Homo sapiens: one gene and its partner. The protein of the gene in region 1 interacts with the protein of each later gene in a biochemical or structural test. Each region holds a gene or a part of one and is shown in the gene's direction. Other genes may lie near its edges. The genes, in order: TNFRSF8 and TNFSF8.

Region 1 (10,168 bases):
TTATTCAAGGCCCATTACAACCTTCAGAGGGCAGCCCAGTCATGCTTCAACACACATCTGGCAGAAGGGGAAACTGATGCTCCCAGTGTTCCCCAGCCCCTGGTATTCATGCCCTTGTGCAGTCCGCTCCCACACTGGGGAGAGCCAGCCTGTATAACCAACAGAATACTGTGGAAATGACAAAATGTGACTTCTGAAGCTAGTTCATAAAAAGCATTGTGACTTCTGTCTTGCTCACTTGGGGTCACTTGCTCTGGAGGAAGCCAGCGCCATGTTGTGGGGACACTCAAGCAGCCCCATGGGACTGAAGCCTCCTACCCACAGCCGTGGGAGTGGCTAATCCTGGAAGCAGATGCTCCAGCCCCACTCAAGCCTTCAGATGACTGCCGCCCTGGCCCACATCTTGATGGCAATCCCTGAGCCAGCATCACCCTGTCAAGTCTCTCCCAAATTGCTGACTCACAGAAACAGCGCAATATAATGTTTATTGTTTTCAGCCACTAGGTTCTGAGGCACATAGCAATAGATAATAATACATTCAGAGAGGAGAAATGACTTCCCAAAGTCACATGGCCAGACCAGGACTTATACATCAGTGCTCTTTCTCCTGGGGAAAGCAAGGGTGAGAGAGGCCTGGGGAGGGAAAAGAAGGCAGCTGAGGCTTCAGAGTCAGACAGGGTTGGAGTAAATCCTAGCCCTGCCACCCTCATGCTGTGTGACCTCAGGCAAGTGACTTAACTACTCTGAGCCTCAGTTCATTTATAAAGTGGGGATAGCAATACTGACTTGAAATCTTGATGCCAGGATTAAATGTCTGACCAAGGGCCTGGTACACAGCAGGAGCTCAATGAATGACACTGTTAATGTTACTATGCAGAATCTTTAAGAGCATCCCCGAGGGCCTCACAGCCTTCCCTCCTGCCCATGGGAAGGGGCACAACAAACCTAGTTCTGGAGAGCCAGTGCCCCTTTGCTTAGTTTCCAACCAGGCTTGGTCTAGGGGTGTCATGCTTGTGGGTGTGCATTGCTGGGGTTCACCCAGGCAGCTGAGAACCCCTAATGTTGGTGCCTCAAAAGGGCAGGGAGATCTGGGGATGTGAGTTGGAGGGAGCCTGACATGGGTCCTGCCGATTAGGACTGGTGGAGGCCAAGGGTGACCCAGAGAAGCCTAATGGAGAGTCCTACTGCTACCAAGGCTCCCAAGAAAGTTGCTCAGAAAAGGTGCACCTGCGGCTGGGCGCGGTGGCTCTTGCCTGTAATCCCAGCACTTTGGGAGACCAAGGCATGCAGATCACTTGAGGTCAGGAGTTCAAGACCAGTCTGGCCAACATGGTGAAACCCTGTCTCTACTAAAAATACAAAAATCAGCTGAGTGCAGTGATGCTCGCCTGTAATCCCAGCTACTCGGGAGGCTAAGCATGAGAATCGCTTGAACCTGGGGAGGGGGAGGTTGTAGTGAGCCGAGATTGCACCACTGCTCTCCAGCCTGGGCAACAGAGTGAGACTCCATCTCAAAAAAAAAAAAAAAGAAAGAAAGAAAAGGTGCACCTGGACCTATTGAAGAAGAAAGGCCCCAGCCTCCCCTCTCTGATTTCCAGCCTCCTACCTGCCAGCTGCTGCCTGGGCCAGAAAGAACCCTTTATCTGCTAAGGGTATTTTGGGGCCATTTGGGACTCGGGTTCCCAGCTGTTGGAGGAAGTCCCTGAATTTCCTGAACCAAGTTGGGACCTTGTGTCTTGCTCAGCATCACTTTGGGGACACAGATTCCCAATTCCCCTTGGATGGCTTCCTACTGCATTCACCTTCCTCACCTTTCCTCCAAGAAGCCCACCGAGCTGAGACTGTGTGAGCAAGCGCTCCTCGCTCCCCAGTCTCCTGTAGCCCCTCGGGCTTGGCTTCCTTCCACAGCTTGCTCTGGAGGGCCCCACGACCCCACAACAAGGACTGCTGCTGTGCCTTGCACAGAGCCTAGGGACTTCCCCTTCTACTCTTCACAGCACTTTCATACCACCTGAAACCTGCCGAGGGCACCCGGGGGCTCTATCCACTGCCTGCTTTTAAGAGTCCCATGAATGGCTGTTTTCCTTGGTTGCTACCAGCCCATCTCCCCCTGGGATCCAGCTGGCTCCCTGGCCACAAAATGTGCCTTCCCTCCACTTAAGCCATGTGTCAGCTACTTTCCTGGGCGCCCTGGGGGAATTCTGGTTCTCAGGAGTACACAGTTTCCTGGGGCAGAGGGATGCATGAACCAGTCATTATGGTTATGACATGATGAGATCAGATCTAGAATTGCGGCACAAAAAATGACAGAAACCACTTTTTGACTGGGAAGAGGGCTGGGGGACAGGAGACACTGCCAGGAAAGCAACAAGGAGGAGGTGGCATTGGAACAGGTTAGGAAGATGATCAGGAGTCTGTGTGCGTCCCAGGTGGAGGCCAGCGTGGGCAAAGGCTGGCAGGGGTGAGAAGGCTGCACATTTGGCTGGAGTATAGGTCCAGGAGAAGTAAAAAGGCACAAGGGAGGAGTCAGCCCCTGCCAGGCTGTGAGCAGACTTGTGCACCCTTGCATTTGGGTGACTCTGACCCAGGGGAGCCACTGCAGGGGTTCCTTTCCTGCAGAATGGGCATAAAAGTAGGACCTTGTTCATGGGGTTTTCATGAGGATACAAGAAACCAATGCCTGAAAACTCTTAGCACAAAATAAGCACTCAAAGGTAGCTGTTATTGTTATCATTAAATGAATAATATAATTTTCTACGTGGTCCTCTGCCAAAACACACACCATACTTCCGCAAGGGTTCTCTACAGGGGAGTGTCTTGGTGAGATGTGTGTGCTAGAAAGGTCTCTTTGGAAATCCATGGAGGGAAGGATATGAGGGAGAGACAAGTTTCCACAACATCTATAGATTTATCCTTTTTAATGGATGTGCAATATTCCATTAAATGGATGTACCACAATTTCCGTAATCATTTCTTGTTGTGAATCTCAGAGTATTTCAAAAATTTATAAATAATATATAAGGAAATGTTACTGTATAGTTTTCTTTTTTCTTTTTCTAGTTTTCCAGTTAAATTATTTCCTTAGTTTTTCTTCACTGAGGTGAAATTACTGAGCCACTCACAAGTAGTACACATTTTTTTTTTTTTTTGGCTTTTGCTAAAAATTGCCATACTGCTTTCTGAAAAGGGTTGTAACATTTACCAGCAGAGTATGAATGAGTATTCTGGTCTCACCACAACTTTGGGGTTGGATTTACCAAAATTGTTTTTATAAAGCAAAAAAAAAAAAATGATGATTGTATAGATCTAAAAGGTTATCAAAGGTTGCTTGAATTTGCATTTCTTTAATTACTAAAAAGGTTAAACTTATAAAACTTGTAATTGATTTTTATTTGTATTTCTCCTTGTGCAAGCTATTTTGATGCTGTTGTTCATTTATTTATTCAAAACACCAGCCCTTCTCTCTCTCTCTTTTTTAATTAAACAAAAAATAGAGATGAGGTCTTGCTACGTTACCCGGGCTGGTCTCAAACTGGGCTCAAGTGATCCTCCAACCTCGGCCTCCCAAAGTGTTGGGATTACAGATATGAGCCATGTCACCCAGCTGCCAGCTTTTCTACTTTTGTAGTAGAAAGCTCTGGACTGGGAAGCAGGTGTCTTGCGTTCCTCCTGTCCCTGTCTGGTTCTGTCATTATCACAGGCAGGTCACTTCCATAATTGCTTACCTCATTGTTTAACATAGTCCCAGCTCAAACAGCCTAAGATACTGGGCCTGGTACATCCAGAGGAGAGTCTGGAAGTGGGTCTCTTGGGAAGGGGCATGATGGAGCAGTTTTCCCAAGTGGAGTCCAGCAGCCCCAGGAGGGTTGAGCATGGAGTGGTCAGTTGTGGAGACCTTGCTGGGAAGTTCCTGGTGGGAGGTTATCACTCCTACCCTATAGGGCCTTCACCTGATGGAGGCCTGGTACCTCGCAGGACAGATCAAGGTAGACACAGAAGCCAGAGTATCCTTAGGCTATTCTGGGCTCAGGGAAAATAACTGGCCCACCCTTAATTAGAGCACCTAGGACTGCCTGCCTATTTCTGAGCCTTGGCTTTCACATCTGAAAACCAAACAAAATCAGTCAAAAGAACCCTTGACCTGTGGCCCACCCAGCAGATGCTCAACACAGACACACGGAATGTGGAATAAAAGGAGCAAAGAGAAAACCCAGGGGATGGGGAAGCACTGGAAGGGAAAATCATTCACCAGCAAATGAGAACATAGTACGAGGAGGCTTGAATCATTTCTGTTAGGAGAGAGTGCCAGCCGCCTCCTCCAGGAAGAAAACTCTAAAGGGTCAGGCCTCAGGGAAATAAAATGATCTATACCATCCATCAGTTCCTCCAACATTCAGTCCATCCATCTACCAATCCACCCACCCATTTACCCACTCACCTGCTGCTCATCCATCCATCCATCCATCCACCTATGCATCCATCCATCCATCCATCTATGCATCCATCCATCCACCCATCCACCCACCCATTTACCCACTCACCTGCTGCTCACCCATCCATCCATCCATCCATCCATCCATCCATCCATCCATCCACTTATGCATCCATCCATCCACTTATGCATCCATCCATCCATCCATCCATCCATCCATCCATCCATCCACCTATGCATCCATCCATCCATCCATCCATCCATCCATCCATCCATCCATCCATCCACTTATGCATCCATCCATCCATCCATCCATCCATCCATCCACCTATGCATCCATCCATCCATCCATCTATGCATCCATCCATCCACCCATCCACCCACCCATTTACCCACTCACCTGCTGCTCACCCATCCATCCATCCATCCATCCATCCACTTATGCATCCATCCATCCATCCATCCATCCATCCACTTATGCATCCATCCATCCATCCATCCATCCATCCATCCATCCATCCATCCACCTATGCATCCATCCATCCATCCATCCATCCATCCATCCATCCATCCATCCACTTATGCATCCATCCATCCATCCATCCATCCATCCATCCATCCATCCATCCACCTATGCATCCATCCATCCATCCATCCATCCACCAATTTATCATCCACTCACTGATTCATTTTACAGCAAATGCTTATGAATGGGGATGGGTGGGTGATGGTTGCTTTTTCTGCAGTCTCCCTAGGCCAGTTGTCCCTTCCAAAGAATCTCAAGGGCATGGGAGAAGGTCCTGGCTGATCGTGTCAGGGACAGGAAACTACTCACATTTCACCGTTTCTTGGGGCAGGAGTGGAGGTGGGGGCATTGGAACCCCCTTGGGGCCTCCTAATATCCTGTGAGTCCCCACCTCCAGGGCCAGAAGCTGCCTGCCTCCGCTCCCCGCAGCCCAGGTGCGGCGGGCAGCACACTCCCTAGAGCCAGGACCACTAGTTCCGTCAAATCCGGGGCGGGCCATTCAAACAGCTAAGGGAGGCGTCTCCTAGTGTGCCTTTTCCTGAGTCATCTCTGCACGTGTTTGCCCCCTTTTTTCTTCGCTGCTTGTAGCTAAGTGTTCCTGGAACCAATTTGATACGGGAGAACTAAGGCTGAAACCTCGGAGGAACAACCACTTTTGAAGTGACTTCGCGGCGTGCGTTGGGTGCGGACTAGGTGGCCGCGGCGGGAGTGTGCTGGAGCCTGAAGTCCACGCGCGCGGCTGAGAACCGCCGGGACCGCACGTGGGCGCCGCGCGCTTCCCCCGCTTCCCAGGTGGGCGCCGGCCGCCAGGCCACCTCACGTCCGGCCCCGGGGATGCGCGTCCTCCTCGCCGCGCTGGGACTGCTGTTCCTGGGGGCGCTACGAGCCTTCCCACAGGTAAGCGGGTGACGGGCGCCTGGGGAGGTGCCGGCGGTCCAGAGCCCGGACAGTGTGGGGTGCGTGGGACGCAAGGGAGGACACTCCTCACCCCGTTCCCTGCCCAGCTGGAGTGAGGGGGCGCGGGTGACAAGCAGGAACACCGGAATATGCTAGCACCCACAGGTGGGAGGCTGGCTGAAGGGCTAGTGGTGGGGGGCGCCTCCTTCTCACCCCGCGATGGCTGGGACTGATTCATTCATTCAGTGTGAATTGGACTGAGAGCACTGCCATACGCGGGAGGCGCTCTTTAGCCCGCCTACCTGCGGGCCCGTCGGGGTCCTGGGCAGATCAGGTGAGGCCGTGGGAGTAGTGGGCAGGCCAGATGGGGCCTCCCTTAGCCATGGGAGGTTGGTCGTCCGCGCTCTACCCTGTTGTGTGCGCGGTCCCGTTTGCCCCCTTCCTAAGCTGGCCACTGGCTGGAGGGTCAAGGAAAGGAGGGAGAGTTGGCTGTGGGTGAGAGTGGGGTGAGGGTGCAGGACCACCGGGATTAGCTTCCCCAATCCGCGTCCGGCAAAGCAACGCTGTGGATTGAATTCGCTGGAGCACGTGGTGGGCATTTGCCCCTGGAAGAAGGTCAGTGGTGGGGCTGAAGTCTATGGTGGGTTGCCTCAGAATTGAGTTTGGGGACTGCTTTAGGAAAACTGAGCACTTACCAGTGGCCAGCGCCAAATTAATCACTGTGGGGAGAATGCAAAGTAACCAGGCGTGTTTCACGGAGCCCAGGGGCTGCTGGAGAGAGAGGCCCTCAGCTGACCCAGGACCCCGGTGGACCCCTGCATAGAACCATAGTAGGTGCGAGTGGATGCCTGCTGAATGATACAGAGGGAAAGGAAGGAGCAGGCTGTTAGTCCAGCGGTGGGTCACGGTGGGGGAGAGGGAAGACCCAGTTCCCCTTTAATCCTACAGGAAGAGAGGACTCCATGCTATGGATCAATTCTAGTCATCTGAACCTTAGGCAGTGGGAGGAGAGTGGCAGAGTGGGCTTTAGGCAGGAGGGAGGAACTATGCAGCAAAGGAGGAACTATGCCCTCTTCCATTTCCAATGGGCAATGTGAGGTATTCCCCCTTTCCCCCCAAGAGGGCAGAGGGGACAAAGCCCTGGCTAGAGACACCCTGTCCCAGCTCTGCAAGCCCTCACCTGGGGGAAGGTAAGAGTTTGGAGTGCCAAGGTCTTGGGGAGATGAAGGGAAGGAAGAGATGTGAGAGGTGCTTGGGGGGCTTTGCTGGTTTGGTTTGGCAGCTGAAGCTCATGTGCTTCCTTTCTGTAGAGTGAAGCCCCCTCCACTTTTTTTAATGTTAGAGACAGGGTCTCACTCTGTTGTCCAGGCTGGAGTGCGATCATAACTCACTACAGCCTGAACTCTCATACCAAACCTTTTTTTTTTTTTTTTTTTTTTGAGACTGAGTCTCACTCTTGTTGCCCATGCTGGAGTGCAATGCTCGATCTCGGCTCACTGCAACCTCTGCCTCCCGGATTCAAGTGATTCTCCTGCCTCAGCCTCCCAGGTAGCTGGGATTACAGGCATGTGCCACCACACCCGGCTAATTTTTGTATTTTTAGTAAAGATGAGGTTTCACCATGTTGGTCAGTCTGGTCTCGAACTCCTGACCTCAAGTGATCCTTCCGTCTCGGCCTCCCAAAGTGCTAGGGTTACAGGCATGAGCCACCACACCCAGCCTCCCATACCCTTTTTAAAATAAAAATACTATATATTTAATTGCACAAGGAATATATAAATATATTCTCAAAGCAAAACTGTAAACGCTACAGATAAAGCCAAGTCTTTTGACACCGCCTCATCCTGATCCCTTCAAAGATATAACCACCATAATTGATTTGGTGTGTTTCCTTTGCAGACCTTTATAAATGCATGTCCATATTTATATTGTTTTAATAGACATATATATAGTTTTCCATATACTATACCCTACAGTACATATGGTTCTTCATTTGGCTTTATAATGTCTATGAGGCATCTTGGTGAGCTTTCCATGCTGAAACTTACAGATCCTCTGCCTATCTTTTAAAATGCTATGTGATCTTTTGCCAAATGGGATGTTTCATAGTTTATTTATGTCCTGGATGGATGGGTGCTAAGGTTGCCACCATTGTTCTTTCTTTCTTTCTTTGTTCTCTACTACAGTGCACAGCCCTATATGGATGCTTTTGGAAATAAATGTCTGTGATTCTTTCCTAGACAAGAGACTGAGAAGAGAATACTGAGGTTGCAGGGCGAAAATGCATTCAAATTAAAAGACACCACCGAACTGCCTTCCAGGGTGGCTGGACAATTTACCCTCCCGCTAGCAGTGCAAGAGAGTAGTAACTTTCCCACATCCTAACCGACATTTGATCTTATCAGCATTTTAATTTTTCTCAATGTGATTAGTGAAAAGGGTTATATCCTTGTTGCCTTAATTTGCATTTCTCGCCTACCGGGGAAGCTGAGCATCTCTCTGGGCTCAGGCACTAGGTCATTTCTTGGCAGGAGTCAGGGAGTCCTTGGGGAAGGGACTACCTGCCCAACACAGTACTCCTTTTTGCCCCTCAAGCCTTCTCCCACTTCTGTTTTTTCCAGTAAAGGTTCGGGAAGCTCGTTATTTTAAAAAAAAAATCCCAAATTAGGGCTTGAATTTCCTTGAGTTTAAAATTTTTTTTTTTTTTTTTGAGATGAAGTCTCCCTCAGCTGCCCAGGCTGGAGTGCAGTGGCACGATCTTGGCTCACTGCAACCACCCTCTCCCAGGTTCAAGTGATTCTACCGTCTCAGCCTCCCTAGTAGCTTGGATTACAGGCACTTGCCATCATGCCTGGCTAATTTTTGTATTTTAGTAGAGATGGGGTTTCATAATGTTGGCCAGGCTGGTCTTGAACTCCTGACCTCAGGAGATCCATCCACCTCGGCATCCCAAAGTGCTGGGATTACAGGCGTGAGCCACCGCCCCCGGCCTAAATTTTTTTTTATTTTTTGGGACAGTCTCACTTTGTCTCCCAGGCTGGAGTGCAGTGGCGCAATCTCAGCTCACTGCAACCTCTGCCTCCTGGGTTCAAGTGATTCTCCTGCCTCAGCCTCCTGAATAGCTGGGATTATAGGTGCCTGCCACCTCACCCAGCTAATTTTTGTATTTTTAGTAGAGATGGGGTTTCGTCATGTTGGTCAGGCTGGTCTCGAGCTCCTGGCCTCAAGTGATCCTCCCACCTCGGCATCCCAAAGTGCTGGGATTACAGGCGTGAGCCACCGTGCCCATCCTGAAGTTCTTTTTTCATCTCTATTTGATTTTTCCCAAGACGCCATCATTTTTCGCCTGGTATTCTGAGGCAGGAATGCTTTCTTGCTAGCTGGCACCATCTGAGAGTTGGCCTCTGATGCTTCGTATCACTGTCTTGTCCAATTGTGTTTTTTTGTAATATGACCCAGGATTAACTGGTGCATATCTGCAGAGAAAAATTTATTCCCCCATAGCTCCATCCTTTTCATCCAGGCACCATGTGGTGGGGTTGCGGGGCGGGGGAAGCCCCAGCTTTCCTGTGAACTCTGTAGACTTAGAAATTCCCCAACATCATGTTCCTTGCCAGTGCTAAGGCTAAACAAGCCTTCCTCCCACATCCATGTACCCCCAATTCCAGCCAGATGTAAGCATCTTTGCTCTGGGTTAGTGTGCAGGCTGGGACCAGGAAGGTTCTCATGAAAGTATCTTAGCTGGGGCCGGGCGCTGTGGCTCACACCTGTAATCCCAGCACTTTGGGAGGCCAAGACAGGCAGATTACTTGAGGCCAGGAGTTCAAGACCAGCCTGGTCAACGTGGTGAGACCCTGTCTCTACTAAAAATACAAAAATTAGCTGGGCATGGTGGCAGGCGCCTGTAATCCCAGCTACTCAGGAGGCTGAGGCAGGAGAATCGCTTGAAACCAGAAGGCGGAGGTTGCAGTGAGCCAGCACTCCCGCCTGGGTGGCAGTGAGACTGTATTTAAAAAAAAAAAGAGGAATTTTAGCTGGGGTGATAGAAAAGCTCTATGTGTGACTCCTCCATCTAGCAATTTAACTTTAAAAGCTTAGCTAGTTACTCCATACAGTGTAGTGCTAATCGTGGAATTTCAGGGAGTGGCAAGAGGGCAGGAGAGATTTTCTGGTTTTGTTTTGCAAAAGGGACATTTCCAGGGCTGCTCAAATCCTGCAGGGAGGCAAGGACGGCGGGGGGGCGGGGGGGGGACCTGGAGAGGAGGGGACCCTGAAGGAGTGGAAGGAGGGTCTGGCTTGTCTTAAAGCCATCC
Region 2 (9,801 bases), on another chromosome or scaffold:
AGAAAGAGGAAGCTTCTTCATATTTTAGAAAATTGGTGTTTACAGAGAATCTACCAGTATATATTATATAGAAAATGCTGTAGTAATAGCATATATTGCTCATGAATTTTTTGATGAAGTTGTTAATGGGTAATTTAAGAGCTGCACCCACCCACATGACCTGCCAAAGTGAGAATATTTCTGTTTCTTACTTCATAGTGCCTACTTTTCGTGGTATTATAATCCTGCTGAATTTATTCTGGTTTTTCTTCAGTTTTCTTAGGCCAAGTACTCTATAGCTTATCAATTGCTGGAAAGAACTAGGCTTTAAAAGGCTTTGATATCTATTTCTCAAGTGTCATCAAGCTTTGAAATTAAATGGAAGCTTTGAAGCTCATATCTCTACAAAAGTGAAAAGAAGGAGTTGCAAATATTTGATTTAGATAGTGGAATTCTTAAAACTCATAATTTAATGGCTTATCTACATCTATTAAGTATAATAATCTTGAAAACACTTTAGGACATCTTTTCTTCTGCAGGGGCTCTGCAATTTCTGTAATTCTAATTTGGAGTGAACCAAGGGTATGTCATTTTATAGCAATGGCCAAAGAAAAGAAATTGAAGTGTCCTTTAAGAAGTTCTTTAGTTAAAGGATCCAACTAGAACTGCTGAGAGAGAGAGAGAGATGGTGGAAAAATGGGTGGCGATGGTGATATATAAAGCTAGAGAGAACTTCAGAGCTCATTCATATCCAACTTTTAGTTGAATTGATTTCTTCTATAAAAGAACCAGAGCAGATCTTTCTGCCTCATTTTTGTAAATGTGGAAAATGAGGAGCAGAGAGGGAACAGGGCTTGAACTACGTCACCCTGAGAAAGTGGTAGAGCCAATACTGCTTGATTGCTTGATGCAAGCAGCATCCCCTTTGCCAATACAGACAGCCACAGAAGCACTAAGAAACATTGCACCCACTCTTCTCTTGGGAGCTTTATCTTCTTGTGCATCCACTTCCTTGACTTACCCCTCATGTTTGGATATGAAAAGATTCACTGTGCAATCTGATTGTACAGTGCGGTGTGCTGTGATTTCTTAGACCAGGAAATATCAGTTGCTTCCTTAAAATTAAGGCTTGCCATGTTAATAGTAGCCGTGGTATATAAAGTGTCAAATGCATTGCACATATCATTTTCAATAAATTCCTCAGACCTTAACTGTTGTAAGACCTAACAAGAAAAAAAAAAGCATCATTTTCCCATTAACTTGAGTTATCAGGAAGGGTTTCCTATAGGAAGATGGAATGTAGACTGACTTGAAAACAGGAAGAACTCAGACAAGTGAAGAGACTCTAAAAGAAACTCTAGGAAAGAAATCAATGGGAGAAAGCCAAGGAGCTTAGACTCACATCACCATTATTAAAAATGGAATGAGTTAATGGTCAATTAGCACTCTGTATGTGATGGGAACAGGGGTGGAGAACCATAAGAATGGTTTTACTGGCACAAGAAGTCACACAATTCTTATCCCAAGGCACGTGTATAGACAAAATTTAAAACAGCTAAGTCATAACATATAATGAGTGATTAAAGGGATACCATGACACCACAAGTTAAGGAGAGAATATATTTTTCCAGACAGGTTTAAGAAAAACTCCTGGGGATTAGTTTCAGGTTGGCTTGAGAAATGTGAACAATTTCAAACAGGCAGGGAAGGGAAAGCAGAGGAGAGGCACTCCTAGCCAATGGAACAGCATGAGCAAAGAGACAGAGGAGAGAAGACAGAGAAAGTGTAGGGAAATCAACAAAGCTTGCCTTGAGGTTTGACTTGAAGATCAGATAACTCCAAGCTTAAACTCCTTGGGAGAGACAAAGGAGGAACTTAGGTTTCTATCTCAAATATTTATTAAATATCTACTGTGTGCAGGACATTGTTCTAAAGCCTTGAAAAAAAACAACAAAATCCCTGTCTTTGAGTTACTATGGAACTTACTTCTTTCCTGTGATATTTTTGAAGCCTCAGTGGTGGTTGTATTTTGTTTTATTTACATTTAAGCCAGCATATTTATAAAATAAATACTATTTTATATAATAATATTACTTTATATTATAAAATAAACATTTTATATTATAAATATATTATAAAATAAACATTTTATATTATAAATATATTATAAAATAAACATTTTATGTTATAAATATATTATAAAATAAACATTTTATATTATAAATATTATATTATAAAATAATATTTTATGTTATTTAATATTTTATAATATATTGATATATTTTATAATATTTATATTAGGAAATACTATACTTACATGGTTTAAGAAAAGTAACTAGCAAATAAGAGAAAAGAAAGTAAAAATCTTCACACCTTCCCCACCCAACCACTAATCCCTCTTCACGGAGATAACCACCATTGACAGATTCTTGTGTGTCCTTCCAAAAATCTGTGCATCTACAAATACACAGTACACATTATAATATATAATAAACCCATGGGTCATTATAATAAACCCATAATTTTGCATCTTGCTTTATTCACTTGACAACACACTGTATATCTTAGAGATCCTTCCATGTCAGTACATAGAAGTTCATTTCATTCTTTTGAAGAGTCGCATAGTACGAAGTGTAAATGCTTCATAATTTATCTGTGCCTGGTGAGAGACATCAATGTTTTCTCTAGAATTTGTGCCCTCTGTGCGTGTCTGCAAGTATATCTGGGGAATAAATTTTTAGTGATAGGAATGGAATGTGCATTTTCTTTTTTTCTTTTTTTGGAGACAGTCTCGCTCTGTCGCCCAGGCTGGAGTGCAGTGGCGCGATCTCTGCTCACTGCAAGCTCCGCCTCCCGGATTCCCCCCATTCTCCTGCCTCAGTCTCCCGAGTAGCTGGAACTACAGGTGCCCGCCACCACGCCTGGCTAATTTTTTTGTATTTTTAGTAGAGACGGGGTTTCACCGTGTTAGCCAGGAGGAATGTGCATTTTCGCTTCAATAAATGTCAGTCTGTCTCCAAAGAGATTGTACTAGTGTACCCCTGAGGAATTAAAAGTCCTACCAACAGACACTTCTTTACATCAATATGGAAAGAAAAAAATGATTTACTGTTGAGCAAGCACAATTGTACATGCAAATAGGCAGCCTGCAACAGACTACAAAGTCAGGATGAAATTTCACACAATTAATCTAGCAAAGCAAAAGAAGAAAAAATAAAACTTCTCTTATCTCCTCAAGAGACAGGGGAATACATAATGAGATAGACAATGAGATAGACTCCTAGGTTAACACCACAGGTAGGTGTTTACATTTCAAAAAGCCTCTGAAGCCCTCAACCTTAGAGACGTCTTTGTTTTGTAAACCAGGAGACTGGGCTTCTCTAGCCCCAGGGGAGAATGTAAAGGGTTACATTCCAAAAGGTTGGAGTATAGGGTTCACAATCGGTAGGCTTTCAAGAAAGAAGCTGCCTCTTTTCCCTTTATAAGCAAAAAAAATTCTTTTTTTAAAAATAATAATAATAATACTCTTTTTAAATTATCTCCACACCAACAGTGGAGCTGAGCACCTGTTTAAGGGGAGTAATTATTGGTGGTGGTGATGGTGGTGTGGTATTTTGGGTTTATTTTTAAGCTCAGATACAAAATAGAAGTGTAGGGTAAACACACCTGATATAGCAATAACTGAAGCATACCCTTAGAATAACCACATATGGCAGACACGTCTGAATGGGTGTTCCAAGCTAGAGAGTCCAGGAGTGGTCAACCTGGAGACTCATTCCTTGTCTGTGAGGAACATCTGAGCCCCCAGCCCATCCCGTGGAACATGGGCCATACAGGAGATTGAGGCCTGAGTTTTTGGTTACATGAAGGCTGCCAGGTGGAGGCCATTAAGGGGAGGCTGTTAAGTGAGCATGCTATAGAAACTGCATGCTATTTGCAAGTGGTTGTGGTTTTCCTGCCCAACCCACCACCACTGGACGGTATATAAGGTGAATATGTTGTCCAGCCTGCTGCCATGAGATCATTTCTGTCCGTAAAGCAGTTTTCCTGTTCAGCTCACTGCCACTGGACTCTCTCCCCTGTATGTAAGCCCCCAATAAAACCCCACATCTTGTTTGCTGACTCTACACCTCTTCTTTAGCCTCTTGAACATGGTGCCTTCCCTGTTGAGCTAATAGGAGTTCGGCACAAGAAGAAGTTATTTGGAATGCCCCATGACACTTCCCACTACCCAAGGTACTCCCTCCACCTGACATTCATTCCATTTAGCAATCCAGAAAAATCCACTGTAAATCTTCCCAGGAGCGAGCCCTGTGTGAGGTTATGTGGGGAGGTCCCCAGTGGAAGGGGCAAGACCCTGTCTTCTGGGAACTCTGTTAAATTGAGCAGATGAAGCCCAAACACCAAGTTCTTGGGTTCCGGGCAGAATGGCACAGAATGCCACAGAGCAAAGGAGAAGTCATTTCTGCTTGGGATGAAGGAGGAGTTTGTAGAAGAGCTAGAACAAAAGCCAGGCTTCCAAGAATTACAACAGTCATGGCTTATTCCCAAAGTCTTATTTTGAAAATGTTCAAACCTACAGAAAAGTGGAATGGCAAATGCTAATATAACCTTGGCACCTAGATTGCTGTGTCAATATCTTGCTGTATTTTTGCTCTCTCTATATAAGGATATGAAAGTAAGCTGGAGGCAGCATGACCTTTCACTCACATGTACTTCAGTACCCATCTCTTAACTAACTGCAATGCCATTATCATTGCCAAGAGAGTTAATATTAATTCAATAATATCATCTAATAATAATATATGGTCCATATTTTAATTTCTTTACTTGTTCAAAAATGTCTTATAGGTATGGCTGTTGTGTTTTTGTTTGTTTGAACCAATCTAGGGTCACATACTGTGTTATGATAATATCTGTTTTAATCTAGAACTTTGCTTTTTAAAGTGTGGTCCTGGGCCTTGTTAGAAATTCAAAATCTCAGGGCTCACCCCAGATCTCCTGAATCCGAATCTGCATTTTAACAAGCTCCTCAGGTGATCTGTATGCACATTAAAGTTTGAGAAGCACCGAGCTAAAATCTCCTTTGCCCTTTGGTGTTTGTTTTAAATAACATTGACCTTTTTTTAAAGGGTCCAGGCCAATTCTGTTGTAGAAATCCATTCATAGCCTGGATTTGTCTTAGTATTAACTCATGGTTATACTCAGATGAAACATTTTTAGTAAGAATAGTATATAGGTAATTCTATATACGTCTTATTGTAGCACAGCTAGAGACATATGTCAGGTTGTCCCATTTTTTTTGACTATAGGTTTAGTCACTTGATTAAAGCGGTGACCACCAACTATCGCCTTTGTAAAACATTTTTTCTTTCTCATTAACAAGTAATCTGGCCAGGAGCAGTGGCTCATGCCTGTAATCCCAACACTTTGGGAGGCAAAGGTGTGTGGATCACTTGAGGCCAGGATTTCAAGACCAGGCTGGCCAACATGGCGAAATCCTGTCTCTACAAAAAATACTAAAATTAGCCGGATGTGGTGGCACACACCTGTAGTCCCAGCTACTAGGGAGGCTGAGGCAGGAGAATCTCTTGAACCCAGGAGGCCAAGGTTGCAGTGAACAGAGATGGCACCACTGCACTCCAGCCTGAGTGACAGAGTGAGATTTCATCTCAAAAAAAAAAAAAGAAAGAAAGAAAGAAAGAAAGAAAGAAAGAAAGAAAGAAAGAAAAAGAAAGAAAAGTAATCTATGTATGGGATAATACTCTGAAGACATAAATACTCTTCACTTGGTGGTTTTGCCATTTCTTAATGATCCTTGTCTGAATCAGCTAATGCACTGAGGGTTGAAAAAGAGGGAATGCCTAAGTCTGTCACTCCTTCCAAATTTATTAGCTGTCATTCTTCTGTAGAGAAGAGCTCCCCATTGGAAAGATGGTGGCAGGAGGAGGAGGAGCAGGATATTCCAGGTGAGGCAAAAGAGAAAGCAGTGGCACAGCCCATAAGAAGGCAAGCCCAGGTGTGAGGAGAGGAATGGTAGGGCCAGAAGTCAGTCCAGATTGTACAGAGGAGAAGAAACGGAACTAGATGATAAAAAGATTTGATAGAAGAGACGGAGAGGACAGGATATCACTGCCATCTTCAAACTAGAAAGATTTCCTAAGCCCATATCTGAGCCCAAATCTATACTCAGCCTCCTACAGCCATCTCTCAAGACCTCAGGTGTTCTGATTGCCTACTGAGTAGTGTATTTAAGACTTTGCTACTCAAGGTGTGGTCCATGGCCTGGCAACATTGGCATCACCTGGATGCTCATCAAAAATGCAAAACCTAAGGGCCCCTCCCTACTGAGTCAGAATCTGCTTTTACCAAAATCCCCCGATGCTGGTCAGTCTTTTAAAGTGGGAGAAGCACTGCTTTAAGCCACTGTGGTCCACTTCTCACTTTGGCAGACCATGTGCTCCCAGTAAAAATAGTCTTCCCCTGAGGATTTTCTATGACTTCTATTCACTTTTCCATGAAATTTCAGGAGATTTTTCTGCTCAGCTTTATCCTGCCCTCATCTAGAGAGGCAATGTAGCAGGACATTGAAGAGCAGTGCCTTCAAAGTCAAACACCTAAGTTTGAATCCCTTCTGTGCTATTCGCCACCTGTGGGACCTTCTATAAACATTATCACATTATGAAATCACTTCTCTAAGTCTTGATGAATCCGTAACTCTTGGGGTCAAGTTAAAGGCCAAATGAAATAGTGCATGTAGAGTAACCCTCATTAAGTGCCCAATGAATTAGCTTGAAAATAAGAGGTATCCTTGGCAAAAGTCCCTTTGGGCCATGAGCCAGAGCCCACCTTACAAGACTATGTGAGGGCAACAAGGAAAGGAATGTGGACTTCCCCTGGCATATTCCAAACAGAGCTGCCTTTGATCATTTTTGGTCCACGGGGGCATTTTGTGTCCAAAGCAAATTCAGGAGCTCATTGCATCTGCTGATCATTCCTCTGTGAAAAGAAACAAGCCTTTCAAGGTATTGAGGCAAATTAAGCACATCATTAACACCAAGGCAGTGCTCAAAATAGCTATGCTTTTCAAATACTTGCTAACACTTTATAATATCTTATGATGTCCACAATAACCCAGTGGAAAGATGGATGATTAGCCATCTAACCACTGATTAAAGGAGAAGAAAACACTCCAAGGCAAGGAAGATGGTTGGGATGGGGGTCATTTTACCTGGAGACAAACAGGTTAAACATGACCATTCCTCCCTCCATACATGAAAATAACTTTATTACTGTTGGGAATACTCATCAGACATCTACAGAGGCCAAAAACAGAGGAAGTACACTTAAGGAAGTATACCTCGTTGATAACCACGGAGACAAAGTTTCCTGAGCTACTCAGTGGAGCTGAGAATGAAAACCTGGGAGAGTCCATTTGTTTGTGCCTGCATTCAGCCTAGGCACTACCTTACACAAAGCCAAGTCATTGAGCAAGATAGTTCACATTTCCTGAGCTAGGACCCAGATCCCCAGACAAGATTAGGGAGAGAATTCTAGGACTGGGGGACATCTTGCCAAAGAGGAGTTGGTGAACAACACTTAGTGTAATACCTGTTTATGAACAGTCTTCACTGAATTTCAACAGCCATCATCTCCTTAGACATTGCTTCTCCACCTCCAAATGCAGGGACTGCTTATGGGAGAGGGGAGGAGGGAGGAATGAGCTCTTCTATCCTTTGTTTCTGGAAACAGCATCTCTCCTAGGGCAGTGGAAAGTACACCAGAGAATTTCAGTCCAAGATCTGCCTCTGACTCATGAGTGCCTTGGTTTCCTCCTCCATAAAATTAGCTTGATGGACTGAAAGATGTCTCAATCTCCCTCTGGCTTTGATTGTCTAATCTTGACTACCATGGGTAGCTAGGAGAAGCTGTAAAGACCTCATCCCAAGAGCTCTTCAAAATAGGAATAGTCACGCTTCTGTCATGGACTTCCTGGGCCCTGGGTGAAGGTTTAAATGACAGGTTTCTTTCCTGTTTGAGATGCTCTGCTTTTGACATCCCATGTCTGAAATTAGGAAACCAGAATGCATTCAAGTGACAGAGAGAAAAGAGGCTTTCCTTGACCCCCATATAAATTAGGTCCTCCTCTCTGATATTACTTCTCACAGCTGTGCTATTCAAAGTGTTCTGTGGGCCAGGAGTGTCAGTATTACTCGAAAGCTGCCAGAAATACAGAATGTTGGCCAGGTGCGGTGGCTCACGCTTGTAATCCCAGCACTTTGGGAGGCCCAGGCGGGCAGATCACAAGAGGTCAGGAGTTCAAGACCAGCCTGGTCAACATGGCGAAATCCCGTCTCTACTAAAAATACAAAAATTAGCCGGGGGTGGTGGTGGGCCCCTGTAGTCCCAGCTACTGGGGAGGCTGAGGTAGAGGAATTGCTCGAATCCAGGAGATGGAGGCTACAGTGAGCCGAGATTGCGCCACTGCACTCCAGCCTGGGTGACAGAGTGAGGCTCCATCTCAAAAAGAAAAAAATGCAGAATGTTAAACTCCCCCCAAATCTGCAGAATCAGAATTTGCATTTTAACGAGACTCCCAGGTGATTCATATGCACATTGAAGTTCTAACAGCACTACCTTAAAGCACTATGATTCTTTTCCTCCATAGCTCTTGCCACAACCTGCAATTCTAATTACACATTTATTTATATTTTTTAAATGGCTGCCTTAATGACTAAAGCATAAAATCCATAGGATGTCTTTTAGTGACTAACGTAGTTCCTACCACAGACCAGGTGCTCATTCAAGGTGTGCTGCATGAATGATTCTCTAGGACTTCCCGAACTGCTAGCAGCCTCTGCAATGATGGCTGTACCAGGTTTGCTATTCTAGCCTCTCTCACTGTCCCTGTATATGTCCCTGGGCAGCTTGATGAATTTGATGATTGTGGTAAGACATTTCAATGCAGATATTTTTCTTAGTGCATTTGCACATCATGCTAATCAATGGTCACGCTTGGCAGTAAGTTGTAAGTTGTTTATTAAATTTTAAAATGTTGTGTGTTGTCTCACAAGGGCAACATAAAGGGGAATTTTGTGATATCAAGTTTTCCTGCAAACTGCATGCATAACTGAAAGACTACAAAAACTTAGCTTTGTTAGGTTAAAAGCTTTCAACTAAGGCAACAAAGTCGTAGACTGTTACAGTAGGAAGGGCCTTCCAGGACAAGTTTGCCTCCCTTCCCCTGAGAAGGTAGGGCCCAAATGTTTAAGCTGACTTCCCCCATCTCCAGATTGGTGCTGTGCCAGGGCTTTGCCTTCAGGAGACCTCCTTGACTCACTACCAACCTCTTGCACTAGAGAAGAGATCCATTCATAAGAAAACAAGCTTTCAGCGGAAGGCAAATGACAGACCTCCCAGGGAAATGTTACAATAATAGGGGAACTCCAGATGGTCCTAGTGTTCATACAGAACACTAAGAAAATAAGCTGTGGGCGGCTGCTAATTTCTTGCTTTGGTAGAGGTTAGGAAGTTGGTTTTTTCGCATACACACGCTCACACCTCTCTAGGTCTTTACTAATATTTTAATTCAATGCAATACAGGAGATTCCAACCTGGGCAGGTCAAAAGATGAATAAAATACTTCATTCCTTATTGGCAGAATATTGTATGGGTGTCTCCATGGCTGGAGAGAAAGGGGAGGGACAATCAGGGTGTGAAACTTAGTGTCTGAAGAATTTATTAGGGGAAAAGAACTGTGCCTCTCTGCTTCTGTTAACTCCTTGTTGAGAGTCCTTGAACTAGAACCTCCCTTTAGTCACC

What was found.
Region 2: the proteins of TNFRSF8 (region 1) and TNFSF8 form a complex in vitro, tested with the Homo sapiens proteins (2 studies listed by BioGRID and IntAct).

What each region holds. Positions count from the first base shown.
Region 1 is NC_000001.11:12,057,807-12,067,974, forward strand, and holds the start of TNFRSF8 (tumor necrosis factor receptor superfamily member 8 isoform 1 precursor), read left to right. Parts: upstream 1-5,496; 5' UTR 5,497-5,792; coding exon 5,793-5,855; intron 5,856-10,168. UniProt on the Homo sapiens protein: Receptor for TNFSF8/CD30L. May play a role in the regulation of cellular growth and transformation of activated lymphoblasts. Regulates gene expression through activation of NF-kappa-B.
Region 2 is NC_000009.12:114,919,388-114,929,188, reverse strand, and holds part of TNFSF8 (tumor necrosis factor ligand superfamily member 8), read left to right. Parts: intron 1-9,801.